7 separate regions of the Homo sapiens genome follow, and regions 1, 2, 4, 5, 6 and 7 are each linked to region 3. Evidence: fine-mapped expression QTL. A gene starts in region 3. Each other region holds a variant in brackets. All regions are shown on one strand. Distances are from middle to middle. Region 1 overlaps TAPT1 (transmembrane anterior posterior transformation 1). Region 2 overlaps LOC124900674 (a long non-coding RNA gene). Region 3 holds the start of TAPT1-AS1 (TAPT1 antisense RNA 1). Region 4 overlaps LOC124900674 (a long non-coding RNA gene). Region 5 has its middle 57 kb from the start of PROM1. Region 6 overlaps LOC124900674 (a long non-coding RNA gene). Region 7 has its middle 46 kb from the start of PROM1.

Evidence for each region.
Region 1: its variant is fine-mapped to the expression of TAPT1-AS1 in whole blood (TOPMed, PIP above 0.99).
Region 2: its variant is fine-mapped to the expression of TAPT1-AS1 in B cells (Fairfax 2012, PIP 0.95).
Region 4: its variant is fine-mapped to the expression of TAPT1-AS1 in whole blood (TOPMed, PIP above 0.99).
Region 5: its variant is fine-mapped to the expression of TAPT1-AS1 in whole blood (TOPMed, PIP above 0.99).
Region 6: its variant is fine-mapped to the expression of TAPT1-AS1 in whole blood (INTERVAL, PIP above 0.99).
Region 7: its variant is fine-mapped to the expression of TAPT1-AS1 in blood mononuclear cells (TOPMed, PIP above 0.99).

What each region holds. Positions count from the first base shown.
Region 1 is chr4:16,181,334-16,185,401 of GRCh38, forward strand. The region is part of intron 7 of TAPT1 (transmembrane anterior posterior transformation 1); the gene reads right to left. Among named protein-coding and RNA genes, the nearest start is that of TAPT1, 43 kb to the right of the region's middle. The variant A/AT (reference allele first, on the strand shown) is at 1,977.
Region 2 is chr4:16,289,075-16,293,142 of GRCh38, forward strand. All of the region lies in intron 2 of LOC124900674 (a long non-coding RNA gene), which reads left to right. Among named protein-coding and RNA genes, the nearest start is that of TAPT1-AS1, 64 kb to the left of the region's middle. The variant G/GAA (reference allele first, on the strand shown) is at 2,379.
Region 3 is chr4:16,224,464-16,228,531 of GRCh38, forward strand. TAPT1-AS1 (TAPT1 antisense RNA 1) reads left to right here and starts at 2,200. Exons shown (of 3, transcript NR_027697.1): 1 at 2,200-2,714. It overlaps TAPT1 (transmembrane anterior posterior transformation 1), which reads right to left and starts at 2,008. Exons shown (of 14, transcript NM_153365.3): 1 at 1,796-2,008. The coding sequence starts at 1,994. RefSeq lists silencers at 1,561-1,940, 2,051-2,100, 2,111-2,210, 2,221-2,290, 2,351-2,550 and an enhancer at 3,061-3,120.
Region 4 is chr4:16,313,313-16,317,380 of GRCh38, forward strand. All of the region lies in intron 2 of LOC124900674 (a long non-coding RNA gene), which reads left to right. Among named protein-coding and RNA genes, the nearest start is that of TAPT1-AS1, 89 kb to the left of the region's middle. The variant A/G (reference allele first, on the strand shown) is at 2,496.
Region 5 is chr4:16,139,165-16,143,232 of GRCh38, forward strand. No RefSeq gene overlaps it. Among named protein-coding and RNA genes, the nearest start is that of PROM1, 57 kb to the left of the region's middle. The variant A/C (reference allele first, on the strand shown) is at 1,897.
Region 6 is chr4:16,330,362-16,334,429 of GRCh38, forward strand. The region is part of intron 4 of LOC124900674 (a long non-coding RNA gene); the gene reads left to right. Among named protein-coding and RNA genes, the nearest start is that of TAPT1-AS1, 110 kb to the left of the region's middle. The variant T/C (reference allele first, on the strand shown) is at 2,368.
Region 7 is chr4:16,128,405-16,132,472 of GRCh38, forward strand. No RefSeq gene overlaps it. Among named protein-coding and RNA genes, the nearest start is that of PROM1, 46 kb to the left of the region's middle. The variant A/T (reference allele first, on the strand shown) is at 2,337.

The DNA of each region.
Region 1 (4,068 bases), 43 kb before region 3:
TCATTACAGAATTATCTGAAAATAAATGGCCTTGAGAAATTTAAAACACTATCTGAAATGAGCCAAAGTAACTTTTGTAAACTCTAACAAAGCAAAACTACCATCGAATTTAAATTAATTGTATTTGATTTTTGGACATATGGCAGCTGCAAGTATAGAGAAAATCTGCAATAATTTCATTTCTAAGGATACTGATGAAAGGGGGAAAAACTTATCTCATTAAAGGTGTATTTAAGGCAAAACAGATTTTATTTTTTAAGATTTTTTTATTTTTTTGAGACAAGAGTCTTGCTTTGTCTCCCAGGCTGGATGCAGCCTCCACCTCCCGGGTTCAAGCAATTCTCCTGTCTCAGCCTCCGGAGTAGCTGGGATTACAGGCATGTGCCACCATGCCCGGCTAATTTTTATATTTTTAGCAGAGACAGGGTTTCACCATGTTGGCCAAGCTGGTCTCCAACTCCTGATCTCAGGTGATCCGCCCATCTTGGCCTCCCAAAGTGTTGGGATTACAGGCGTGAGCCACTGTGCCTGGCCCAAAACAAATTTTAGAAAAGCAGACTATTTCAAAATATGATAGAGATTAATAAAAATGGATAAATTTGGTAAATGAATGCGATTTTATAAGATGAAGGATGTGAAGGATGGCAAGCTTAAAGATTAAAAAGTGACACCATAAAAATTAACTCTATCTTTATTTGATAAGATAAAGATACAAAACTATATCTAACTATAAAAATGAGGCTGTTATGTGAAGATTTTTTGGAAGTTTTATTCTTACACTTTCACAACTTTTACATTTAAATGTTTTACATAGACATTATAAAATCAAGATTTGACTTTTAAAATTTGAGTTAAAAAATACCCAAATTTTAAGTTTCTCCAAAGTAAGATATAAAAAGAAATAAAATTTTTATGAGAATAACAGAGTCTGATACTGATAATCAAACATATATTAGATAAATAATGCAATCAGCAACATATTTATACCATCTCATCTTCAGAATAGTCAGGGTTCGGATTAGAACTGAACTCTTACATTGATTAAAAATTAAAATTTCTAGGAATGTTTTCTCCTAACCTTTATTAAGAAGCTTAAAAACATTGGTATTAATGCTTTTAAAATATTTCTGACATTCAGGTTATTAAGCTTTTTCCTTGCTATATTACCACTAACAGGGATATACTTTAACATACTTGCAGTCACATTTTAAATATAAAATGAGTGACTATTTCCAACAAACATCCACATTTATTGCAGATATGCAGGCTTCTAAGAGTGCTAAGTGAGCTATAAGCTTACTCCAGACAACCTAACTCCTGAAGGACCTTTCTAAATGCACAGTTCACATTACCAATGCGTAAAAAACTACCTAAAATTCTTCATCTCAAGAATGCAAACCAGAAAGGCTGGGGTTCCACATTCAGCTAACGCTTATGTTAAAATGAAGTGAAGAAAAGGATAATTTGTTAAAAATCTGGTTTTGGTAACTAAACTACTTTTCACATGTCCTCAGGCAATTCCTCCAAAGAAAATATACAGTGAGCTACCACTGAAAGGGGTAAAGTTACTCTCAGATTTCTCCATGAAGTCTTCTATATTAAACCAGCATGAAGGACTGAACCTTACACTACGTATCTGGCAACTCAAATTCTGATGGAGAAAAAATTCATAGGAAAATTCATAAGAAAAAAATAGCCGATATGAGTATCCCTCCTGACTGGCTCTCATTAAGTAGCTACTACTGAAGCATATGAAGAAGGCAACATATTCATATAAAGAGTAAAAAGCACCTCTTGGTGACTCCTGATCTTTCCATTTTAATAGCTGAACGTTGCCTAGAATATTTTTTTTCTTACTTGAGAAGGGTCTTAAAATCTGCCTTAGGGTAAAGTTAATTTCTTATAAAACTCTTAAAGGGTACAATGCGGACCACCTTGCATTGTAACATGAGCTACTTTGCTTACAGCAAAAAGTA[A/AT]TTTTTTTTTTGGTGCTAAGTAGTAACCATTTTAAGCCAAAATAAAGTCCAAATTTCTTGTAGACTGATATGCATACCTGATCATTATATCATTTTTTTTCCCAGAGTTTTCTTAAAACTCAAATATTGAATACCTAATCTTTCTAAGCTAAGAGGTTGGAATTCTGGGGAACCCGTTTATAAAAATGAAAAGGGGTATTAATTACATCAACATGCTGGCCATAAGGTTAAAAACATTCACAATTTCCCCCTCATAATTTTGAAGCTTTTATACACAAGGATTGAAAACCTTTAAAACTTAAGATCTGCGTGTCTAGTTTAAGGCTCTATAAAGAGCACTTACCCAAAGGAGGTTACTAATATGAATTAATTTAAAAAAAACATGGTTTCCACAACAAACGAAATTCTTACAGTTGAATCAATTTACTCTATGGTTAACTACTGAAGCAAAGTATTCTATAATTTAGTACCTTCCCTCCTTCCTCTTTCATTTCTAATTCATGACACTTGGCAGTCTGCACTTGAAAGGTGAGCAACATTAATAAGCAGCAAGAATATGAACTGCTTCTCAGAGCCTTGAGAGTCAGGTCCAGCATGGCCTCATAGAATCATCTAGGCTTTATGTTCAAGTTTTCCATTTGTTCTTTTTGTTCCTTGCTTAGTTTTCAAATCTCCTATAACTTGTTTAACATATTCATATGCCATTATTTTCCTTGTCTAATATACAGGTAAAATTTACATACAGTGAAATGCACAGATCTTAAGTACATTATGTGATGAGTTCTGATCAATGCATAACTTGAGACACCAAGCCCTTAATACAGAAAGAAGTTCCATCATCCAGAAAGCTCCTTTGAGTCCCCTTAGTCAATCCAAATGCCCAACAAACAACCTCTTATTCCTATCATCATAAACGAATTTTGTCTGATCATAAACTTCATATAAATGAAATAATACATCATGTACACTTTTGTGTCTGGCTTTTCTGCTCAACATAATGCTTCTGAGACCTACATAGCTGACAATATTAGGAGTTCATTCTTTTATCTTTAATTGCTAAGTAGTATTCTATGGTATGGATATACAGTTTGTTTATTTTCCTACTGATAGCTATTTGGGTTGTTTCCAGTTTTTGGCTAGTATGAACAAAGCTGCCATAATAATTCTTGCAACAAGTCCTACTGAGGAAATATATTTCCTGAATTACAGGGCAGGTGAACATTTAACTGTAAAAGAAATGGCCAAAAACAGCAGTTGTAATACTTTACACTCACGCCATCGATGCCTGAGTGCCAGTTAATCCATATCCTAACTTGTGGCACTGTCAGGCTACAAGAGCAGTCACTCTGGAGGGTGTGCAGTGCTATCTCATTATGGCTTTGTCTTTCTCCAGTGACATTTTCCCTAATAATGCCGAGCAGCTTTTCATGACCTTATTGGACATTTATAGATTTTCTTTTGTGAAATGTCTGTTCAAGCCTTTTCCCCATTTTAAAACTAGATTGTCCTTTCATTATTGATTGGTATAGTTTGTTATATATTCAGAAAACAAACAAACAAAATCTATCGTCAGATATATGCATCTCAAATCTTTTCTCTTAGTACTGTGGCTGGCCTTTTCACTTTTTAAGTTTTATGATCACATATTTTAATTTTGAAGAAGTCCAGTTTCTCTCTTTTGTTTTACATTTAGTACTTTTTGTGTGGTCTCCAAAAATGTTTGCCTAGACCAAGGTTGTGAATGTTTTCTCCTATATTTTGTTCTAGAAGTTTTATAACTTTAGCATTTATGTTTAGGGTTATGAACCACTATGAATTAATTTTCTTGGGCAGGGAAGGGGCCAAAGTTCTTTTTTTTTTAACCTTTATCCAACTGTTCCAGCATTACTTGTTGAGAAACTCTTCTCACTAAATTTTGTTTTATAAAATATCTTTTTTATTGAAATGTTATTTTTGTAAGCATGTAATATTTTTATTAAAATTTCTCAGTTTTCATTTCGAATATGGTGAATAGGGAGAGACATAATCCATATAAATAAAAGTCCTTTGGAATCATCGTAATTTTTTTTTTTTTTTGAGACAGCGTTTCACT
Region 2 (4,068 bases), 65 kb after region 3:
TGCAAAATGAAACCAGACATGTTTTCTTTCCTTAAGAACCTATCTACTCAGGCAATTATAAACAGTAGAAAGTCTGAAATATTTAATGTGAAAACTTAAAAAAATAGTCTAAGAGATCACAAAGGGAAAGTTTAATTCTCTCTGATTAGAGATTGACTTCCCAGAGATGGTAGTATATGAACCGGGGCTTGGAGAGTGAACAGAATTTGAACGTGCCCAGAAGTGTTTCTTGAGAGGAGATCAACATGGCTACAGCGTTAGCCATAGGGAAGGGCAGGATGTTTACATCAGAAATAGTGAGGGCGGTTGGAAACAAAGGACTGGATATAGAAAAGAACCTGGCATCTGAGATACCTCTTCATAGGTGTGATAGTTACAAGTCTAGGATTCCATAACATCACTGAAGGAAGTACTGTCAAGCAAAGGTTCTAAACATGGAACCAGGAACTTTGTGAACCCCCCTGAAATTGTTGGCTGAAATGTGTGAGCATGTATGTGAGTGTAGGTGTGTGCAAGTGTGTAAGAGTGTGTGTTCTGTTTCTATCAGAGTGTGTGTGCCAGGAGGGGCACAGTCATCTGAGTGTCTTTTTCTGGAAAGAATGTCCGTGGACCATGGGTGACCATTGGTTTTCTATGGGTTACAAAACCTGTGACAAGGTGCATAACCACTACATCTAGAAAGAGAAGGCAAAGAACATACCTTAGGAGTTACATAGATAAAGTAGATTTGGTGAAGGCTGGAAGAAAATGGCCAGAGAGAACCATGAACATCTACTATTACAGAGGGCAAAGAGAGAAGTTATTTAAAGCATGGAATGACAGGCCAACTGTGCCTAAGGAGGATGAGATATCAATAAACAGATGAGTTCCACCAGGTGTGTTCATCTATGTTCTCTTGGGTTACCTGGAAATCATTTGCAGACTTTAATGGATGCTTTACATGATTAGGAACAGTCAAACAAATGCAATCACAACTGAAAACAAAGCCCTATTTAAAAATGATCCACAAGATGGCACTGTGGGCCAATAAGAATATTCATCTGGTTTTCACAGTGAAATGTTTCTCGTTCATTCGTTTTTCTCTATCTTTTGCTAATATACTGCAGCCTGATCCCATACCTTATTTGTCTATTAAAAACCCTGGCATTTGAAAATAATATTCCTAATTTTTATGATTCCTGCTTACTCTTTATATAATCCTCAGTAGAGTTTGGAAAACCTTCATTTAAATTCTGGTTTCAATACAGGAAGTTGGATCTTATTTCTAATATACTGAAAACCCTTAGAAGGCTGTGTGTAGTCAATGCCGGAATTTATTGGTCCTTGGGGAGCTTCGAGATTGGGAAAGACAGGAGGGAAATAAAGGGAAAAGAGAGAGAAGGACTCTAAGTTTGATCAGAAAAGCAGAGAACACAAGTTTCAGCCATGATTAGCCTGGCAAGAACATAAAGCACCCAGGAAATCCACATAGGTGTAGTGTTGCTTCCAAGAAAAAGAATCTCATTCTGGGGAGTGTGTTAGCTAGGGCTTTCACTTTGAAACATGCATTATTTATTTGTTATTATTATTATTATGCAGAAAGAACAACAAATGGCTTAAATTAGGCACCAAGACACAGGAGTTAAAATGTGTCCTTTTGTCAAAGAGAATCATAATGCAATCTTACCCGTATATGGCATGTAACTATATAGTTTACAAAGAGCTTTTATACGTTCATCATCTTGCTTGATTCTCAAAACCACCCTGTGCGTGGGAAAGGTCACCAACCCCACTTCACATATCAGGACACTGAGACCTTGGATATGTTCAGAGACTTGCTCAAGGACACACAAGCAGGACAAGCTGGCAGAGGAATCTAAGTCTTCAATTTTCTTCTCTGCAAAATGGGGTTAATGGCGCTTACTGTCGCAGAAGTGTGTTAAACATAACCACATAGTAAAAGTCTAGACAGAGAATCAGTAAATGTTAGCTGGTTTCATTATTCATAAAAAGAACATTACAATGTCTATTTCCAATGATATATATTTTAAAGATATTTAGTTGCAACAATAGAAACCACTTATCTTGCTAACTTAACTTGCCAACAATCTGCTAAATTACCTTCCGTATTTCCTCCACGTGCCCATTGTTCATGGGCAATAAAAAAGGAATTTATTGGAAGGACACAGAAGAGCTTCAGAATCACAGGAAGAGCAGAATAATGTGGCTTTGGAAAATACAGGACACAGGAGAGAGGCTGGCTAACCTCAGGGTACATGTATACGCCATAGTGAGGGGAGGCAAGGATCCCTGGCTGATAGTCAGCCAGGGGGACAAGTTCCCTGAAAGGGAAATTGGGATGCTATTTTAGAAGAGAAGAAGAAATAAGTGCCTGGTAG[G/GAA]AAAAAAAAAAAAAAAAACATGAAATGCCACTGCACAAAGTATTTCTAGAATGAAGGAGACCTTAACGTCACTTTACGTAAAGCTAATGATAATGACCGATGTTTATTTAGCACTTATGTGTCAGGCACTGTTACATTTATTCACTCATTTAGTCCTCGTGATAACCCTATGAAGCAAGCAGTATTATTAGTCTCATTTTACATGGGAGAAAACGAAGGCACATTTGACCAGAGTAGCAGAGCTGAGTTAAAAACCCATCTAGAGCTCATAACAAAAGACAACAACAGTGTTTAGAAGATTGTTGTAAAAATCAAAAGAGTTAATCTTAGATAGAAATATGAAATTGCTGGTGTTTATCCATTTTTGGCCTAGAAAAACAGCCGCTGCATATGACTCTACCTAATACCTTTACAGCAATCAGAACAGTGCTAGAACTTAGTGCCTGATGATGTTTCTCATTGTTACTAGATTATCCTGCCTGTCTATAGGCAATGGGCTTTAAAAACTATTAAAGTGTGCAGGTCCATTGTCATTTAAACTGGACTGGGTTGGGGTAAAGCCCAGGAAGGTGTCTTTTGTCTAGTGCCACATTGCAGTTTTCTAAGGAGCTAAGGAGCAAGTTAGGCATTGTATTAGGTTTTATTATTATTATTATTATTTGTGATTTCTATGTGTCTATGCATCTCCTTCGGATCTTTCTTCTCATACATCAGCTTACAGCTTATTCTTTGGGACTGGGAGCACAGCGAGAGGTCATTGTTTCATGGCAATGCAACAAGAAGTGGAGAAGCCCTGCCTTACCATTCAAAGCTGGATCCCCTCTCCCTCCTCCGTTCACCCCATGCCCCATGCTTCTTGCCCTGATGTGTCTCTGAAAGCATCCTGAAGAAATCAATTGCATGACCAGAGCTGGAAGTGTCTCTGGGAGCTGTTTAGTTCAACCTATTTATCAAAGCTGTTTATCAATGAGGAAGTGGGCTCAGCTAGTCAAACAGCTGCAAAAAAGGTCGGGGGGCTGGTTTACATCTAGGAGGAATTGTGGAGGACCAGTACCAGCCCGGAGTCCTCTGAACCCCAGATTAGGTGGAAAAATCAGTGACTACACCGTTCACTGCAGGTCCAAGCACACAGCTCCACACGCCACCCTGAAGGAGAAAAATAAGTGCTGCAGGCACATTTCCATTCTTTTCTTTCAAACACAATCCTCTCTCCAATCTGCCTGAAGAAGAAAGGCCATGCACGAGCCACAGGTTACTTATTTTCTGGAAGGATAAATGTGGGCCTGTTTCCAGTAAAAGTGACTTCCAAGAAGCATGAGCCTTCTTGAATACTGACCCACTTCCGGATGTGATCCTGGCTGCGGCAGTTTCCAGAATATCATCAGGGTAACTTTCCCGCTGTGCGGTCTATGTTGGAACTTACATCGTCTTTAAAAGGCACAAATAGCTGAATAACATAATGTAACCTGATGTTCTGACAACCCCACTTATACTCAGGCTAAATTTAAAGGTCACCATTGCAGGGAAATAGTGGCATGAGAATAAAAGTGCCTTAAACATGGATTTCACTGATGTTTCCTCATTTCAAAATTCTTACGCTGTAAAATAGAGGCAAAATGGCCTGTGAGCTTGAAAATATATGAAGTGAAGAATCCATTTCTTGGGAACAAGGTGGTTTTAGGAAAAATTG
Region 3 (4,068 bases):
AGAGAGAACACTGGCCAGTGGCTCCAGCTGAAATACTCCTGGAATTTGGAATTCTCACCTAAATCCTGATCGCCAAGGCTAGTGTGACTTGGTAAAGCAGGAGTGGCCACTGACATCTCCTCACACAAAATCAATGGAACTGGGGAAAGAACAAGGACTACCCCAACAGCTAAACCTGGAGGCATCTCCCTGATAATGACTTCCTGCAACTATGGGTTAAAAAAAATCCAGCCTTAAACATGGTGAACCATGTTGGTGAAGAATGGATACGTGGTATAATGAAGTCCATGGAAGTCCAGGTATCCAGTCCCAGAAAAAGCCAGGGAAGAAGTGTTAAGTGATACTGCAAGCTCAAGATCTGTGCTCATCAATAGGCTTCAAACAACTTCATTTCCTCTCCACGCAAACAACAAAAAAAGGCTTTTAAAATGGTGGCTTTCCTGCAACTGAGAAATGTTTTAAAGAAAGTATAGTGAAGCCTGGCTACATCTATCTCTATTTACAACAGAGTGCTTTTAATATTCAAGTCTAAGTAAGTAAACAGACAGTTGAGAGATTTGCTATTTTGTCTTACTGAGATCCTGCCAATGAAGAAAGTAAATACTCTTGAAAGCAAATGTTTAACTGAGAACTAAACCAAATAAAGTATGGTTGAGAATTTTTAAGTGGTTAATTGAAAAAGACCAAACAAGACCGTCTGTAATTTTCCAAAAATATAGACTGCTTCAAATAGAACCTACGTCCAGTTCTGGGAATCAGCAAATCAATTAGAATCGCATCTGATCAACTTTATGCCCCTTAAGTAGTTTTAAAATTTCAGTACTCAAGTACAATCAATGATGTAATCAGCCTCACAACTTAGTTATTTGCATGAACTTCAGGAAATAACGGCTAACACAGCCCCTTTTGGACAACAGAAGTAATTTTTTAGTTGGAAGAAATTTAATGGAGTTATGGTTCAGTTGCTGTTTACAGCTTGAGAATTAAAACGTTGGGTTCACTCTATATTCAAGAAGACATCCATCTCAAAACCTTTTTTCATTTAAAACTAATCTGTAACTGCAATATGAATACAAATGCAAGTTTTAAAAATTCTTTTAAAATGAGAATAAAAACCTACAGCTTATAGAAACTGTAACATTGTAACAATACGTTTAAAACTGGTCATTGAATGTAGGATTCATAAGTACACATTTTCTCATCTAGTAATTTTTTTGGCATAAGTTTCAGTTCAGGAAAAGTTCAGATGCAACATTTTATGGAGTGTTAAATATTTCTGTACTGGGCAAAACTACTGAACTTCATGGTCACTACCACACCGTCAGCTGTCTGTGAAAAATCTACTTGCAGGGCAAGTTAACAGGTTTCTATGGCTCAAGTTTGCTTAAAATACAGAACAAAAAAAGTCACCTTGGCATGAATATAATTAAGAAATCAGCCGTGTGCTTCTCACGTTTGGGCTCCGAGACGTGGGAGATGCCCGCTAACCTAAGACCTTCCGAGGGCGATGCAAGGACCCGGACAGAACTTTCCCGGCCGCAGACCCCTTCTAGGGCACACCTGGCCTGGCGCGGCCGCGGGGGCCTCGGGGCTGCGCGCGCAACCCGCCCGAGGAACTGTCAACGGCCGCGGAGCCTCGGCAGCCTCGGCGGCTCCGCGCGCCCACAGCCTGGGGAGCCCCGGGAGGCAACGGCAGCCGCGCGGCTCGGGGGCCGGGGTTCCAAGGCGCCCCCGCCGCCCTCGGTCCCCAGTCCGCCCCTCGGAGCCCGCCACGGCCTAGCGCCGCCCGCCTCACCTGTGCGGCCCCGGCGCCTCTCCCGCCGCCGGTCGCTCTCGTAGAAGCCCAGCGTCTCTGTGAGCTGAGGCGCCGGCGGGGGCCCCTGTCCGCCGCTGCCGCCCGGCTGCTCCGCCTCGCCGCGGCCGTCCCGCTGCGGGCCGTCCACGCCGCCACCGCCGCCTTCTCCCGGAGCGGCCGCGTCGCCGACGCCCGCCATGTTCCGAGCACAACAAACTGTCCCCGCCGCCTCCCTCCAGCCTCTGCCTCCGGCCGGCCCCCTCCCCGCCTCGCCCCGCCCCTCGCCGGAGCCCGAGCCGCCGCCGCCGCCGCCGCCATCCGCGGCCCGCCGACCGGCGCGAGCCATTGGCGTCAGCGACGCGTGTGAGGCCGCTGCCGCCGCCGCCGCCGCCACGGTAGCCGCCATCTTCTTCCTGCCCTCGCCGTGGCGGGCGACGGTTTCTCGCGCCGTGGCTGGCTCGGCCGGCCGGGGCACCGCGCCGGGCTCCATGCAGCCGGGCTGCGCGGTCCCGCAGAGCGGGCGCCTCCGGGGCTCGAGTCGGGGACCCGGCAGGAGCGGGCCGGGGATGGCGGCGGCGGGCGGCGGGTCGGCCGTGGAGCCCCGGAGAGGCGGCCGCCACCACCGCTGCCCGCAGTCTGCGAGGTGTCCGGCGGTCCGCTCAGGGCCTCTTTTGCAGACTCGGTGCCCGGAGTGCGCCGGCGCCGCCCGCCAGGTCTTGGCACTGCTGGCGCGGCCGCGGCGGCGGGGGCCCGGCTCCAGATCACCGACCCCCACGAGCGCCGGCCCTGCCTGCCCGCTATTTTGGTTCCATCTCTTCTGCATATTTATGCTTGCCTGTTACATTCCCTGGCCTCTGAGTGTCCTTTGGCAGTTTCCAAAGCATTTGGGCAAGAAGGAGCTTGGGCAGCTTCACAACAGGTGGGGACGCGCAGGGGAGGGGCCGCGGCCGGACCGGCAGAGTTTCAAGGGCTGGCGCGCCGGCGGACTTTCCACACTGTCTTTCGGGACTGGGGTTAGGAGACAGCCCTTGGCCACCACTGTGTCCTTACTTTGTCGCTTTACTTGGGGCTGGACCTCCCCTTTCCAGCTCTGGCGTGTGACCCCGCAACGAGCGTGGTGTCGAGACCACCACCAGCTGGGGCGGTGGGAGCGAAGGTGCCCCAGGCTCGGGGAAGGTGGAAACCTTTTCCCCGCTCCCCAAGTGATTGTTGCGCGCTCCGGTGAGGGGACAGTGGTACCTCGATTTCCCGTGTGCCAGCTTCGGGACTCAGCTGTGCTTTTGTGTCTCTTTGATTAGCAAAAGCAAAACGAATTCCTCCCCGAACACTAAGCTTCCTGGAAACTTCCCTAGACCTAAACTTGAGAACCGCATATAAATGGGCCTTGAGGGTTCTGTCGTCAGTAGCGGGTTACGTGATTGCAAACGAGCAAGTTTAAAACGGAGTGGGCTTTGGGCTGCAGAGCCGCCTGGCATTCTGACAGCTGAGCAGGAGGCAGAGGTGAGAGTCCAAGATGGACTAAAAATGTCCCAGCAGCTGGGAGCCCAACCTCGGCCCAACCTCGTTGAAAGGAGGAACATTCGGTGCAGCCGTCGGAACCTTATTATTTATGAAAGGGGACAGCTCACAGGATTACATTTTTCTAAGCCAATCCTGTGACCATCCTCCATGAAATTCTCTATTTTGGTTGCATGTGGTCAAAACTGAGCCTCACTGAAACAATTGAAAACAAATACTCCCGACAAATCTTAAGAATCGTTTTGAAAATCAAAAGGTGGGGAAAATGTTGTGGCTTCTGAGCTTTCTTCAGCCCATATTCTATTATTCTCTGATGTTTTATGGTGTAAAATCATACCCATTCCATTATGTATTGATTGTCAAGAAGGAAGTAGGCTTTTATTGCTATTTTTATGTCAGTTTCCATTTACTGTCTCACCACATTTATTGGGTTATTGCCTTTGCCTTTGACTCAACAGGAGCTGGAAGGGTAGGAATCCCAAATTCTGTTGCCTAAGGCAGCCAGTTGTCAGAATGGACTTTCCTCATTTTCTATTATGAGGCCTGAGGAAAGACATTCAGTTCCAAAGGCTGTGCCTATCCTTTTAAATAGAAGAGAGAGGGCCCGGCACGGTGGCTCACGCCTGTAATCCCAGCAGTTTGGGAGGCCGAAGGGGGCGAATCACGAGGTCAGGAGTTCCAGACCAGCCTGGCCAACATAGTGAAACCCCGTGTCTACTAAAGATACAAATATTAGCCGGGCGTAATGGCGGGCG
Region 4 (4,068 bases), 89 kb after region 3:
CATAAGATGTTAATAATATGGAAAACTTGTAGAGGCTATGTGGGAACTCTCTGTACTATCTTCACAAATTTTCCATGAATCTAAAACTCTCCTAAAATAAGCAAGTTATTATTTTATTCTATTTTATATTTCTATTTCTTATTGTATACCCTTTGCAATCCTATAGGCAAGTTATTTTTATTTTAAGTTCTGGGGTACATGTGCAGGAAGTGCAGGTTTGTTACATAGGTAAATCTGTGCCATGGTGGTTTACTGCACCTATTGGGTCATCCAAGTTATTTTAAAAATTAAGTGAAAAGTAATGCAGGCATGACTGTATAGCAAGACAGAATCACAAAACTGATGTTAAATAGCTAGAGTTTGGGGCTCCCCACTCATCACTGTGCTATGTCTTTACCTTTGAGGAGCTTAAAACATGGAGGAAGATGGGTGAGGGCCAGGAACTGTATGCCAACTAACAATGAGATATAGGGATGCAGAGGCAGGAGGTGAGGAGCAGTTAATAAGAGGCTTTGCAGAACAATCATGGAAGGGCATGGAAAGGCGTTGCAAACAAAGGGAAGAGCCTGAACAAAGACATAGAGGTGGAATCTTTGCAGTTTTGACAAGAAGACATGTTCGTTGGAAGCTTGGCAGCTGTCTTCGATGGTGTCTCTTTCTTTGCCTCCCATTTCCAGCTTTATTGCAATTTACTTATTTAGTGTGATGTCTCTTGAATTAATCCTTTTCTCTGAACCTCTTCCAAATTACTTTGGTTTAGGCCACCTTCCTCTGGCACTTGGCACACTAGTCTGGTTACTAGCTCAGGTACTGAAACCTAAACTTCAGTTCTTTGTATTTTGGTTCCCTCCTCTTTAAAATGGGGATTGTAATGCTGCCTAACATCTCAGCGTATTTGTGAGGACTAAATTAGTTAATAAGAGAAAAGAGCTTAGGATAGGGTCTGGCACATAACATGATATAAGTGTTAGCTATTATATTATTATTTTTTTGTTTTTAACACAGAGCCAAAATTACTTATAAAACTTAAATTTAAGAAGCAAAAGCACTACATATGTGTGATATTTGCTTTGGCCTCATTTCTTTCTGATTTGATAACATCCATGCAATTCAGTGGTGATAATTTGTGTGACTGCTGATGTGAAATCATTCATTCCATCAGCTTTGAGTGCCATTGGTGGCAGATGCTGGCTGTGTATCTAGAACTGTGTCTGAAAAATAAAATGAATTCAAGGTCTATCACTAACCAAAGAGGATAACCTTGGGGTTTTTCACAGTCTGTGTAGGGGATATTGCCTTTGCAAAATCGATGTCAGAAGAGACCCAGTCCATCAGCGGAACAGCTACTGGTAAGGAAGGAAGACAAAGCAGATAGTGATGGTCACACTACAGGACATCAGGGGGCCTGCAGAGAGCATTCTGAGACAGAGCAGTATAGAGGCTATGAGAGTGGACTGTGGTGTTTAGCCAGGGACTTCTCCTCTGCCACTTGCTTGCTCTGCGATCTGGGAGGGGTTAGGTAACCCCTGAGCCCTGGTTTCCTCATCTGTAAAGTAGGAAAAGATGAGAGCACCCACCTTTGATCTTAGGATTGGTGTGCAGCTTTAATGAGTTAATAACTATAAAACACTTGGAGCAGTCCTGACCCTTAAGGAGAACTTCCTAAGGAGTCAGAGACCCCAGAAAGGTGAATGATCTCATCTTGACCCCTTGATGTCTCTCCATTTTCCAGAGCTGCTCCTGTGAGGCCAGTCTGCGTCACTCTGTGATGCTGGGCCAAGACCATGCAAAGAATTAGTGTCAAGGGTTGTCAGTGGAGGCCCCCCTCTGGACATCTTCAGTGATAAGCCAATTGTGAGCTTGAGAGCTGGCTCATTCCAGCTTCAGACCATCCTAATGAGGAGAAAGAACCCCTGCTGGATGGGCTAGAAGCTTCCTCCCATTGCTTCCACCCACTGGCTATCATTTTGCCCACTGGTCATAATGGACCTTGTCCTTCTTCCTGACACTCCATCAGAGCACATGGAATTAGCCATCAAGCCACTCTGAGTCTTCCTTTTTCCAGCCTAACTGGAGATGGATAAGAGAATGTCTGGGTGTAGTAGGCTGACTTTAGATATCTAAAGTAGACACGGTCTGTTTTCTCGAAGCCATCGCATCAGAACCTGTGTGCCTCTGCAGGACTCAAGTACCAGCTCAACAAAGCGTGAAGCTGCCTGTGTTTTGGAAGAAGGGATGACTGTAAAGGCATTTTGTTCACAAGTATGCTTGCCCAAGGGCCTGCACAGTCTAATTTCCTTCAAGCCTCTCCAGAAGCTCCATTTCCTGATGATCAGTGGTAAACTCCCTGCAACAGGATAGGTGGCGTGAAATTTCAGATTTTATGCAAGTTCACGGCTAGAACCAATGCACAATTACTGCTAAGAGTTTGATTTTGTCACTGTGAAAGCCCCGCGGATTAGGCCTTTCAGAAGAAAGGGAAAAGCCGCTTCTGA[A/G]TTTTTAGCCTCTGTTGGGTACTTCACCATAGAACAGTGCTCATACTGCCAGTGCATTTACAATGTAAATGTTTTCTTTCCAAGGTCAAGGTTTTAGAGCCCAAGGCCACTATTGAGACCGCAGGGGCAGAGCCATAACAATTCTGCTGGCATCCTAAAAATAAAAAGCTTTATTTTCAAATTGATGATGTGGTTTAAAAGACAGAGTCTCAATAATTTACTTTTCTGCCACTTGCATCCTTTTTCTGTTGATTGGGCCTGGGAGAAAGAGGTTGGCTTCATATCGAGGGAGTGCCAATTTCTGAGACTTGCGTAAGACTAACCCTCTTGGATTCTGGTACTAATGTCCCAATCTTCTCCTCCCTTCTCCATCCAGGTGTGAGCTGTTAGATTCACTGAATCCTTAGGCCGAATCCTAAGCATGGTCAGGCTTCTGGCAGACACACCAGCAGAGTGTGGTGACACAAATTCTGAAAAGACACCAAAGGGGCAGCAATTGACAGAACTGAAGTGCCAAAGGCTTTAGGGAAAAGCTTCCCATGGCCGCCTCAGAGGGTCAGACAAGCATAGGAGGCAGGCTAGGGTTCTCAGTTCCTCATCATCATCCCTTTCTTCTTTCCAGGTCTCATCCTCCACGGAACAGAGAATGGTTTTTAGAGTAACAATGCATCCAAGGTATTTACTAAAATGGACACAGTATTAGCACTCTTAAAATTTGTCTTGAAGTTGCTCTTCTCCAAAGGCCCTGGAAGATTCTAGTAGGAGTCATTATTGCTTTCTCTGGAGGGGTGGATCTTTGCCTTGACCATACTGGACTCAGGCAGTATGAAGTTGGGGCCCTGGGGAATAAATCTGCGGGGGGCAGAGGAGAAAGAGGAAGATCAGAGAGTATAGCAAAGAAGAGAATGCACAGGTGAAGGGCACTGACCTATGAACAAGTTCAGTCTTGAGTATGTGTGAATGGAAAACCAACCCACAGGCAACAGCAAGTTCCTGCCACTGTCTTCTCAGTTGGCCCACGGTCAGCTACCAGTTAAGAGCAGGTGTTTGCTGTTACTGGACTGCACCAGCAGGCCCATGCAGAATTTGATGTATATAATAGCAGTCTTTCACATAGTTTTCATTTATATATAAACATATATTCATTCATACATATATATATTTATACATGTGTTAATATATGAATATATCAAAATATATAAATATTATATTCATATATACTTTTATAAATTTATATATGAATATGCTATGAATACAGAATATACTTTATACATTTATATGTATATATTTTTTTCCAAGCACCATGTTATTCATAACATCTCCCTCGAAATCCAACCTGTTTTTCCCAAGATTGAAGCAACCATTTCACAGCCATCAAATGATAGCTGTTAATCTTTTTTCCATCAGTCTTTTGGGATTTTTGAAAGACACTTTTTAAAAATGAAGTATCATTTAGAATTGTTTTTATGGTGCTTGAGAATCTTGACTGACTGAGTACTTCTCTGAAGGGAAGGGTTTAATATGCGTTTGAGTGCTTTTCTCTACTCCCTCCAACCCCAGAGCTAAATCATTG
Region 5 (4,068 bases), 85 kb before region 3:
GTGACAGTGTTTGTCCTCCTTTTTATTATTTTTAGAGGCAGAGTCTCGCTGTGTCACCCAGGCTGGAATGCAGTGGCACAATCATAGCTCACTGCAGCCTTGAGCTCCTGGGCCCGAGGGATCCTCGCAGCTCAGCCTCTTGAGGAGCTGGGGCTACAGACCCACACCATTGTGCCTAACTTGTTTCTCCTTCTTTTCTGAGAGGAAAGAGAAAAGCCAGGGCTCCTCATCCTAAATGAGGGGAAGGGGCAGGAGAATCTCTGGGGAGGGGAAGGGGTGTCCATGGGCCAGTCTGGTTTCTGACTACGTGCTGAATGTCTCCTAAGCTGCTAAACTGTGCACCCAGGGCCACTACAAGGCCAGAGCAGAGTGCAGTGACAATGCTGGGTGACACCTTGGCCTCCTGAACTTTGGAGGTCACACACTAGAGTCAGCTTTTTTCCTGAAGATGTCCAGGATGCATGAGGAGGATGGTCAGGCAGCCTGGGGAGCAGCCTGCACCCCCAGAGACTGGCTGGGCAGAGGGAACACCAAGGAAGGGGCCGGACTAGAGCCACCCTGGAAACAACCCTGCCCAAGCAGGCTGCCTGGCAGAACTCCAGGGCGGGCCCCTGGGGCGGGAGATGAAGAGATGAGAAGGAGCTGGGAGAGGTCAGAACAGAGGGTGCATCTATCATGCCAGCAGGCCCCAGGTGGGGGCAGGGGTGGAAGTGAGGCTAGTGGATATCTCTGAAGAACCCACAAAAGGTACCTCTTGGAAGAGAGAAAAGAAAGAGGGCTGTTATGGGTTGAACTGTGTCCCTCAAAAAGATGTGTTGAATGAATTCCTCACCCCTAGAACCTGTGAAGGTGACCTTATTTGGGAATGGGGTTGGGGCTGATGTAATCAGTTAGAATGAGGTTGTAGTGGACCAGGGGGGGCCCTTAATCCAATATGACTGTTGTACTTATCAGAAAAGGGAAATTTGGAAACAGACACAGAGAAGAGAGCACCATTTGAATAGATGCAAAGATTGGAGTCATGGTATCACTATCTAAGGATAGTGCTTCGGGGGCTGCCAGAAGCTGGAAAAGGCAAAATATGACCCTGCCCCAGGGGTTTCAGAGGGAGGCTGGTCCTGCCAACACCTTGATTTTGGACTTCTAGCTTTCAGAACTGTGAGAGAATAAATTTCTGTTGATGTAGGACACCCAGTTTGAGATATGCTGCTATGGCAACCCTAGCAAACTAATATAAGGGCCAACCTTTGGGCATCTGCCACATAGAAGACCCATGGCCAGATACTCCAAGAGTCAGGTGAGGCAGCCTTGAGTTCACATCTCCCCTCCGCCACCCACCCCTTCCCCCAGCTCCAGGTGCAACAGGGCATATGAGGGACACACCGGGTCCTATTCCTGGGGCTGTCCTTGCCTAAGCTGGGGAAAAGGCAACTGCTTTGAATGGGACGTGAGATGGAAAAAAAAAAAAAAAAAAGCGAAACAGAAGATCTGAGTGGCTTAAATTGGACTTCAATCTTTTTACTACTAGAACATGCTATAGGATCTACCTAGACTGTGAGAAGTTTCCCCAAAGAGTCCACAGGAAACATATAGGTAGGAATATCTGATGGGCTCTGGCCCAAAACTTTCCTCTAAGCCTCAAGGAGAGCCAAAGCACTATTCTGAAAATGTTGGAGGCAGAAGAAAGTTTTCTCAGATTCCCTGGCATCTCCTGGGCTTCTCCATAAATGGAAAGAAGGCTCAGTTCAGCTTCACTGAAGTCTTGGATTCTTGTCCCCCAGGGACTGAAACCAAACCTGGAGCCCAGGTCACTACAGGGAAATGATCCAGACCTCAAGGAATTTCAAAACACTTACTCAGGCAACAGCTTTACCTGGAAGCTGGCCAACAAAGGCC[A/C]TATAATGGACAGAGCAACATTCTGTGGTTGGGGAAATGCTTTCAGAGAGGCAAGCCTTTGGGACTGTAGATTAGGATCCAAATACCAGTGTAAATAGAGTAGAGCTTCCTGGTAGAGGGCTTGGTTGCTCAAGGTGAACAGTGTGTGTCTTTGTCCATGGTCAGCTCCACAGTCCAGAGTAAGTTACTCTATCATCAGAGTTAATGGCAGGAAACAGAAAGTCCCCTAGTGGGTTTTAGGTATACAGAGAATTAATACAGTTAATTAGGTGCTTCCAGAAATCATCTGAAAGCTGTCAGGAAGTTGGGTGGCTCTAGACTGGGTCTCTAGGAGTGTTTAAAAGGCATCCCAAATTTGTTTTAAGCTGTTATGGTGAGACATGAAAGTGACTGTCATGAAGAAGTTTGCTACTCACAGGTCCCTAGAAGCAGGGCGTGCAGGGCCACATGGAGAAGCACCCATGTTAGTCCTTTACTGAGGTTTCCACAGGGAGGAACAGGTGAGGTAGTGTCAGCAGCTTTAGGATTGTCTAATTTGAATAATCTTAGCAGGCTCTTGGGCACAGGGGCTGCCCCTGGTTGTGTGTCCCTAATTGTCTTTCCCTAGGGCTGACCCCGGTTGTCCAGCCCTGGGGTGATTAGAGCAGGCAGATAGTGGCCTGGAGTATGAGAACAGATATAGGAGGTGGTTGGGGTATGGCTCTGGATTGGTTGGTTTGCATATGAAAGGCACATTGGCTCACACACCAGACATTTGCTATTCCTAGGAATTCGCTAGTCCAGTAAGGGGTGGTCCCTCCAGGGTCAGCAAAGCCCCAAGATGTCAAAGCATCAAAAATACAGAATAAAAACACAAACTGGGCAAGGAATTGCTTCTGCAACATTTGAGAAGGCAAGGAAATGGGGCTACAAGGAAGCTCATGAGTGCCAGAGGATTAAGATAGTGTCTGTAAACCACTAGTAGAGTTAAAGGCATTAAATCCTCAATTAATAGCGACTGCTACAATTCTTAGCATTGCTTTCAGTTCTGTAACTTGGGCTACACAGACAATGATCACATTATTAGGTTTGCACTTAAAAAGAAAAAAAAGTCCCCTGTCATTTGACTATCTCTGAGACATCTGGAGTTTGAGACTCTCCGGGAGCACAGTACTAATCACACGTACACTCCAGCAATACTGGATGCACTAAGTTAAACTGGTGACCTGGAGCATATTTGAGGTGCGTAGTTCTGAACCTTACCTTTTGATAAAGGTTTGGTCCTTGCTGGGGGCTGACATTGCCTATAAGAGGACCTAACAAAGCTCAGTGCTCTTTCCAGCATCTTCCTGTAATACCCTTAGAGGTCTTCTAATCGTGTAGTGCTTTCTGTTGCCCACTAGCCAAGGAGCAGAGTGAAGTGAGACCCAAACCAGAAAGTAAACCTGAAATGCAGGCAGAGAGGGCCAATCCCCACATGCACAGAGCAGAAGTGCAGAAAAGGGGGGCAGAGGACACAACTCTTGTGAGCACCCTGGACAGCTGTTTTGCATTTAGCCATCGGCAACGCCATGAGGCTGAGATGTGTCTCAGTTTTATAGAGGATGGCAAAGCTCAAGAGGTTATGCACTAGCAGAGGTCCCACAGCAGGGTTCACACCCAGGTCTACCTAACTCTGCAGGCCAGGAGGCTTCCAACCACACTACACAGCCTGGAGAAAGAACTGCACATGAAGAATGAGCTGTGGAGGAGGCTGCCATCGCCATGCCCATAGAGGGCAGCCAGGTGTGGTTGGGGAAACGGTGGAGTGAGGTCAGAGCCTCAGAGAACAGCAATAGAGGCAGGCTGCAAAGACTTCCCCCCATGTCCCTGTTCTCCCACAGATGCCCACCCAACTTCCCAAACTGGAACTGCATTTCTGTGCACTTTTGCTAATGGAAATCCCAGCAGAGGACTTTGTGACTTTTATGGTTTGTTTTAATAACACACCCCTCACGATTACTAAAGTAATACACATCATTGTAAAACAGAGAAATGGACCTTGTATGAAAACAAGCCACCACACCCACTAGGATGGCTGTCATAAAAAAGACAGATAATAGCAGGGTTGGTAAGGGTGGGAGATATTGGAACCCTCATAGTCTGCTGGCTTCTGGTACAGCTACTTTACAAAACAGATTGGCAGGTCCTTAG
Region 6 (4,068 bases), 110 kb after region 3:
GCCTATTCCTCTCCCTTTGCTGGAATGTAATAAATTCATATTACCTGCAGTTTTATATTCAGGTCATTTTATTTTCTACTTAAAGGATTTTAACCAATATTTGGCTTTCTATTTTTTACATAATAAATGTGTGAATATATCTCTTTATAAACCATTCATTGTTTTTGGATAAAGCCAAAGTTCCCCTAAAATACCACCCTTCATCCCTTTCTATATTGCAGAGGTAACTGTGTTTATCTTTTGGTGAAGTTCACTCCTGAGTTTGTTATCTCAGCCTTTACATACACACCTATGAGGGGTCTTCAAAATGTTCATAGAAAATGCATATTATGAACAAACTATGCATGGTTTTCACTTTTTTTTGCACCAAAATAAACTCATACTAATGTGTTATACTGTGTCTGAACAGAATCTAGTTTAAGGCACTAAGAAGGACAATATATCAGTTTGAAAAGAATCCTTATCAGAACAACATGAATTCTGCTAAAATTGAAGCAAGAACAAACATCAAATTTATGGTGAAACTAGGGTGGAAAATTGATAAAAATCATTGATGCTTTATGAAAATTTATGAGGATAATGCCCCATATTATTCAGCAGTTTACAAATGAATAATTTGTCTTAACAAGGAATAAATCCAGTGTTGAAGATGAAGCCCGCAGTAGCAGGCCATTCACATCAACTTGCAAGGAAAAAATTCACCTTGTTTGTGCTTTAATTGAAGAGGACTGATGATTAACAGCAGAAACAAGAGCCAACATCACAGACATCTCAAATGGTTCAGCTTACACAATTCTGAATGAAAAATTAAAGTTTAACAAACTTTCCACTTGTTGAGTTCCAAAACCATTGTGTCCACCAAATCATCTGCAGACAAAAAAAAGTTTTCAATGAAAATTTTAAACAAGTAGGATCAAGATCCTGAAGCATTTTTTAAGAAGAATTGTAACAGAAAATGAAACAATGCTTACCAATATTATCCTGAAGACAAGACATAATCAGAGCAATGGTTACTAAGACATAGAAGTGGCCCAGTCAAAGCAAAAGGGAACCAGCCAAGAGCAGAGGTCATGGTAACAATTTTGGGGGATTGTCAAGGCATTTTGCTTGCTGATTTTTCTGGAAGGCCAATAAATGATAACATCTGCTTATTATGAGAGTGTTGAGAAAGTTAACTAAAGCTTGAGCAGAAAAAAACAAAAAAGTCTGGGAAAGCATTACTAGAGAGTCCTATTCCACCATGACAATGCTCCTGCTCACTCCTTTCATCAAACAAGGGAAACTTTGGGAGCATTTCAGTGGGAAATTATTAGGCATTCACCTTACAGGTGTTATTTGGTGTCTTCTGACTTCTTTTTGCTGTCTAACCTTAAAAAAAATCTGTAAGGGGCACCCACTTTTCTTCAGTTACCTCATGTCAAGATCCTTAATTTAATCGACTGATCAGTCCCTTTTGCCACATGAGGTAACATATTCACATTCTCTTCCTTTCTGCAAATACTTACGGAATGCCACTATGTACTTGGCACTATACTAGACACTTGGGATATAGAAGTTAACAGTGACAATTGGTAAGAAAGACCCCTAGCACCTCTAAAGGAATATAAAACATGATATTTCATATAATTACACATAAAAATCACATAAAAACATAAATTTCACGTTCTGCTTCAGAATACTAATGTGATAGTTTATAATCTAAAAAAGGTTGCATAGACATGGCTAAATTTTCAGGACCCTCAGTTCTTTAGGGATGAACTAAATGGCTGAAATCATAGCTTACAAAATTGTCTTGACTTTGATGTGAAATAAAACTTACATATTTTATTTTTATCTTTTAGTTCCACTTTCCGTAAACTTTTTGAAGTCCTCTAGTATCTGCAATCTTTAGAGCCTTCCTCTACCCCAGAGGTCACCACTGTTTTGGTTTCATAGAAATGGTACCAGATCTTTTCCCATGCATTTATAGACCTGTATAAATCCATGGGTATTTAGTTTAGTTTTGTGGAGGTTTAAAAAAACTTACATAATTTATTTTTGCAAATTGTCTTAAAAACAATGACAATGTGTCTTGAAAAATGTTTCCCTGTTACTACTAATGGGCCAATCACATTCTTTTAACATACAACAAAGTGTTCTATGGGTACTGTATTAGCTTCCTATTGCTGTCATAACAAATTACCACAAACGTAGTGGTTTAAAGCAATACAGATTTATTTATTTATTTATTTTAAAACATTTATTTCTGGTTCAGGGGTACAAGTGAAGGTTTGTTACACAGGTAAACTCATGTCATGGGGGTTTAAAATTTATGGTTCAGAGGTCAGAAGCTGAAAATGGGTTTCACCGGGATAAAATTAAGGTATG[T/C]GCAGGGGTGCACTCCTTCTGGAGAGAGTGTTTCCCCTTTTCATGGATAAAGATCCTTGAGATTACATTCAACCCATCTGTATAATCCAGGATAATCTCTCATGTCAAGATCCTTAATTTAATCAACTGCTCAGTCCCTTTTGCCACGTGAGGTAACATAGTCACAGATTCCAGGAATTACAATGTGGACTTCTTCTGCATACCTCAGGCCCCATAGTCTGTAGCTGTTTTCCTTTTTTTTCTTTCTGCATGCTCCTTGGTGACCTTTCTCATTCTCCTGGATGATGCTACATTTCTACCTTCAACGCCAGTTACAGCTATTTATTGAGTCTATCTGCCCTCTGAGATCCCACAGGCTCTGGAACCGTGCCGTTTGTCTTCTTCAGGCCTTTGCACATTTGCTCTCTTGGTTTGAGGACTTTTCCCTCCTTTCAAGTCACATTATCTTCTTTGTCCTTCAAGACTCAAGGTGTTAGCATCCTTCCCCAGGATGTTTTCTTTCCAGATCAGTTCATACCTTCCAGAACTATGCCTATTGCAGTTTTCATCCTGTATTCTAAATGCCTGTGTTTTACCTGTCAACTTTCTGGGTTTATCTATTATTTCTTGTAACCCTAGTGCTTGGACCAAAAGTAGACATTTAATCAATGTTTGTTGAATATATGAGGTCAGAAAAAGCAGTCCTGAGGGCAACCGTTTGCTTTGAAATCTCTCTTAAAGTTGCAGCTACCTCTAGATTTCCAACCCACGAACTTCTAACATTCTCCAACTGGTACAGTTTAGGAAAAGGGGGCTGCAAGTGTGACTTCATGCCAACCCTCCAGGGGTTGTCTGAAGAGCTCAGTTTGTATCAGGTGTCTCTGCATGCAGCTACTTTAGGTCCTGGCAACCTTCCCTTCCTCTTGCCCATTCAGGAAGAAAGGTGAACTGCTCCTCTCTGTCATTAGTCCCAGGGTCCTATGCTTGTTCTCATTAGCTTTTCTATTCCTGCCCATTCCTTTGAGGTATTCCCTTTACTTTCTTCTCCGTAACTTATCCATCTTGAACATGCTCTCTGTTTCCTGCCAGATCCCTGACTAACAGGGGCAGTGGTCATATCTAATCTGTAACCAGATCCTCAATAGTTCAAACCAAGCCTGTATCTCAGCACTCAGTTGATGCTGATGGAATGAATATTGAATATTCTGTAATAAACTTACTAAATTTTGTAATGTCATAGTGTAATCGTGAAGTGTTATAACTGGACCTGACTTTTGATATTTTCCAGCCAAGACCCATCATTTTACCTAAGCGAATTTTAGTTTGGAAATTGTGATGGAAGAGAGAGTGTGCAATAATGGGTAGAGGAAAGATTTCAGAGTCATGTAGACTTGGGTTTGGATCAGAGGTGCCACTGGGCATACTCAGTTTTGTCAATTGCTAAATGAAGACAATATTACATCACTGGGTTGTTGAGAAGATTAAATGAGCTGATGCACCTGAGTTCCCTGGTATAGAACCCAGATGTCCTGGTTTCCATTCCAGGGTGCACGCCACCATTTGGCCAACCAAACTGAGCTGAATATGTGATAGTTTAGTATATAGGAAGGACTTCATGTGGCCCTACTCCTGGTGTGTACGTCCATGTTGCTAAACCAGTGATAAGAGATGAAGGAGTTCTTACAGCCGGCTCCCAGCTGACTCTTCCAGACCATATTTTGA
Region 7 (4,068 bases), 96 kb before region 3:
TGGCCTTGACAATGGAGAAGATTTGGAGCTCCCACACCAGGTAGACCTGTGAAACATGTGATGTTTCCTGCGGCCTCTGAGAGGAGTGAACCCCTGCCCACCCAATCCCCTTCCTAGACCTTTCTGAGCCAACAAAAAAACTCACCTGAAACACCTTGAAACATCTGTTATTCGTGACCCACGACGCTGGTGCTGGTCCAGGCCTCAAACTTTGAGTAGCTGTGGCTCAAACTAATTTTAGTTGCATGCTTTATTACTTGCATCCAAATGCATCCTATCCAATCAGTGCTTTTGGTGGGTATGTGACAAAGAATATTTTTACTTTATATTTACAAAGCTCTGATACAAATATTAGTTCACTTGATCCTCACAACAGAACTAGGAGGTAGCCTATTTTGCAGAAGAGCAAACTAAGACTTAGAGAATTGCATTTGTCAGAATACTTCTTCTTGCAAGTGACAGATAACTAACTCCAAAGAAATTTAAACACAAAAGAGAAGCTGACTTAGGTATCCAGAAAGAATAGGGGCAAGCCTCTGGCACAGCTGCATCCAGTGACTCAAGTTATTTTTCTAGGGCTTTGTTAATTTTATTCTTCTCTACTACCGACCAGCTTTCTTCAAGAAGTAGAGAACCTGACCATTAGCAACCCAAGGCTGCTATCTCGTCCTATAGGATTCAGACTCCAGAGGAGAGTATTTTCACCTGCCCAGTGTCCACATACAAAACCCCTTGAACCATTTACAGAGGGTAAGAATGGATTGGACACAGTGTGAATGATTTGGAAAGGCCCTTGATAGACAGGCATGAGATTACGTGGCTTACATTAAGGTGGAAGAGGGGGAGGTTATAGAAAGCAGTTGGATGTGCGTAAGTTGGGATATTTTCATGTAAATATATTTTAAAATCAGAAGAAAAATACTTTATCAGAATTCTTATTGCAGGGTCTGAGCCAGAAAATGGGATCCCCGTGGCTGTAGCACTTATTTGATCCTACAGCTTGTAAATGTACATTATTACCTCCTCCACCAGATTACAGGGACACTGACAACAGGAAACATTTCTTTCATGTATTCATTTACTGAACAAATATTTGTTGCCCTGCTGTGGGCCTGGCTCAGGGAATGTCACTGATAAGGCTGAGTCTGTTTTGATTAGGAGGTCTTATCTGAACAGCTGGCCTTTCTGTGTGCCTGGTGTCCTAGGAGAGGCAGCCTTATAGCTGAAAGAACCACTTCATCACATTCTCCTAAAATAGAAATGTATGTGATCACAGTTTTGCTACATTCACACACACACACACACACACACACACATCAGTTAAAGAGTTTCACTGCAAATACCTTAAACAGATATTGAGAAGGAAAGAAAAGGAGAAAAGATGCTGAGAAGGCCACTAGCTGTGTCTGCCATGATATATATTTGTAATAAGATGTTCTCATATTGAACCTAATGTTTTCGAAACCTCAATACAGAGAATTGGAAACACATTAGTATTTTTACATACAGGCAGATAAGGCAGACTTTATCTTTGGGCAAAGACGATACATTGATTTTTGTTGTTGTTGTTGCTGTTTTTGAGACAGGGTCTCACTCTGTCTCCCAGGCTGGAGTGCAATGGCATGATCACAGCTCACTGCAGCCTCAATCTCCCAGGCTCAACTGATCCTTCCATCTCAGCCTCCTGAATAGCTGGGACCACAGCTACTGTCAGCATGTTGTCAAGCCCAGCTAATGTTTTTAACTTTTTTGTAGAAACAGGATCTTACCATCTTGCCCAGGCTGATCTCAAACTTCTGGGCTCAAGGGATCCTCTTGTCTCAGCCTCCCAAAGTACTGGGATTACAAGCATGAGCCACCATGCCCGGATGACACATTGATTATGTGAAGACACCGTAAAAAGACTCCTATAATCTAACACAAAGACCAAGACCTCTTCTGAACTGAAGAAATTCTGAATGAAGTTTTGCTAACCATAGGCTGCAAAATGATACAGGTGGATGTGTTCATTGATAGAGAGTTGCATTGCTTTGAGGATCAGGTTTGATCTGTCTCTTTGGGGTCCAGGACTAAAAATATCTGAATCTGGCAAGGAGAAATGGCAAAAGACTGTCATCTTGTTTGGAGACCAAGTAGGTCAGAGGTAGATGTGGGGCTAAGGAGAGCCCATCTGAGAGGGATTGGTCCCTCAAGGCGGGACTCAGCCTCTGGATCTGGGAGCCATGATACTTTGTGTCCTGTTTAAGTGGTTTGTTTTCTTTTTCTATTTTTAATTACCTTCTGAGGATATTGCCTACAGGGATATTTTATTAACTCTTCCAGTCTTGAGTCCACTG[A/T]GGTCTGGGGATTAGGGAGGCAGGATCCAGGCATGGGAAAGCTTCTGCTGTGAAGTAGTGAGAGAACATCTGCAGAGAGTGAGCAAGGCCTGAAGGGAGGTTGTTATTGAGGTGACAATACACATGAAAGACATATTTTGGAACATGTTGGTGTCCCTCTGGGACCCCTCGGAGAGACTCTGTTAAAACTCTGTATTTTCTGCTAATCAAATAAATGATCTGGGGCTTGGGCCTACACTAGTTGTTTTTTTGTTTTGTTTTGTTCCGTTTTGTTTTGTTTTGTTTTGTTTTGTTTTGTTTTGTTTTTGAGACAGAGTCTTGCTCTGTCGCCCAGGCTGGAGTACAGTGGCTTACTGCAACCTCTGCTGAGTGGAGTACTCAGCTTGAACCGCCTCCCAGGTTCAAGCAATTCTCCTGCCTCAGCTTCTCAAGTAGCTAGGACTACAGGCATGCGCTACCATGCCCAGCTAAATTTTTTTGTATTTTTAGTAGCGATGGGGTTTCACCATATTGGTCAGGCTGGTCTCGAACTCCTGACCTCAAATGATCCGTCCACCTTGGCCTCCCAAAGTGCTGGGGTTATAGGCATGAACCACCATGTCTGGCCCACTGGTTGTTTAAAGGAAGGGTTTCTCATAGGTTAGAGAACTTGGGAATAGCCAGGCGTATACTAGGGGTTCATAGAAGTTTGACTTTGGTCTCAGTGTTTTTCCAGATATACAGTTCCATTTAACCTTGGCCTTTGGAAGGCTCAATAGCCAAATGCCCACCTCAATGTCATATCTGGCACCTTTGAGCTATTATAAACATTCCTCTTATACTTCTACTCCAGGGAAAGGCTGAAATCTGTGTGCATGCAATGAAAACTGAGATGCACTAGAAATTTTGGTGGGATCTTACTGTCTTGAAAACCAATTACCTAGCTTTATTACCACATTTCTAGATCCAAAATTTAAGGACACATTTGTCTCAAAGCATCGTATAAAGTGTCAAGTCCATGCAAAAGTATAGGAAATTTAAAACTGCAAGAAAGGGCAACAATCTTAAGAGCACATTTTTTTTTTTTCTTTTTCTTTTTTTTGTGACAGAGTCTCGCTTTGTCGCCCAAGGCTGGAGTGCAATAGCGCGATCTCGGCTCACTGCAACCTCTGACTCCCAGGTTCAAGGGATTCTTGTGCCTCAGCTTCCCGAGTAGCTGGGATTATAGGTGCCTGCCACTACACCTGGCTAATTTTTGTATTTTTATTAGAGATGGGGTTTCACCATGTTGGCCAGGCTGGTCTCAAACTCCTGACCTCACGTGATCTGCCCGCCTCGGCCTCCCAAAGTGTTGGGATTACAGGCATGAGCCATTGTGCCTGGCACTTTATAAAATATTCAGGAAGTATTTTCTTTCTTCCTTTCCAATCTGTATGCCTTTTCTTTCCTTTTCTTGTCCCATTGCTAGGTCTTCCAGTATGACATAGGAGTGAAGAGAAGTTGTCTTTGTCTTATTTTCCATCTTAAAGAGAAACCATTCAGTCTTTTACCATAGTATGCTGTTAGCTGTAGGATTTTTAAAGAAAATATTACCTTTACTGTGTTAAGGAAGTTCTTTTCTAATCCTAAATATTTGAGAATTTCCATCATGATGTGACTATATGGGTTTTCTTATTCCATCTGCTAAAAATTACATCCACTGATTTTTAAATGTTGAACTAGCCTTGCATTTCTGTAACCACATATATATTTA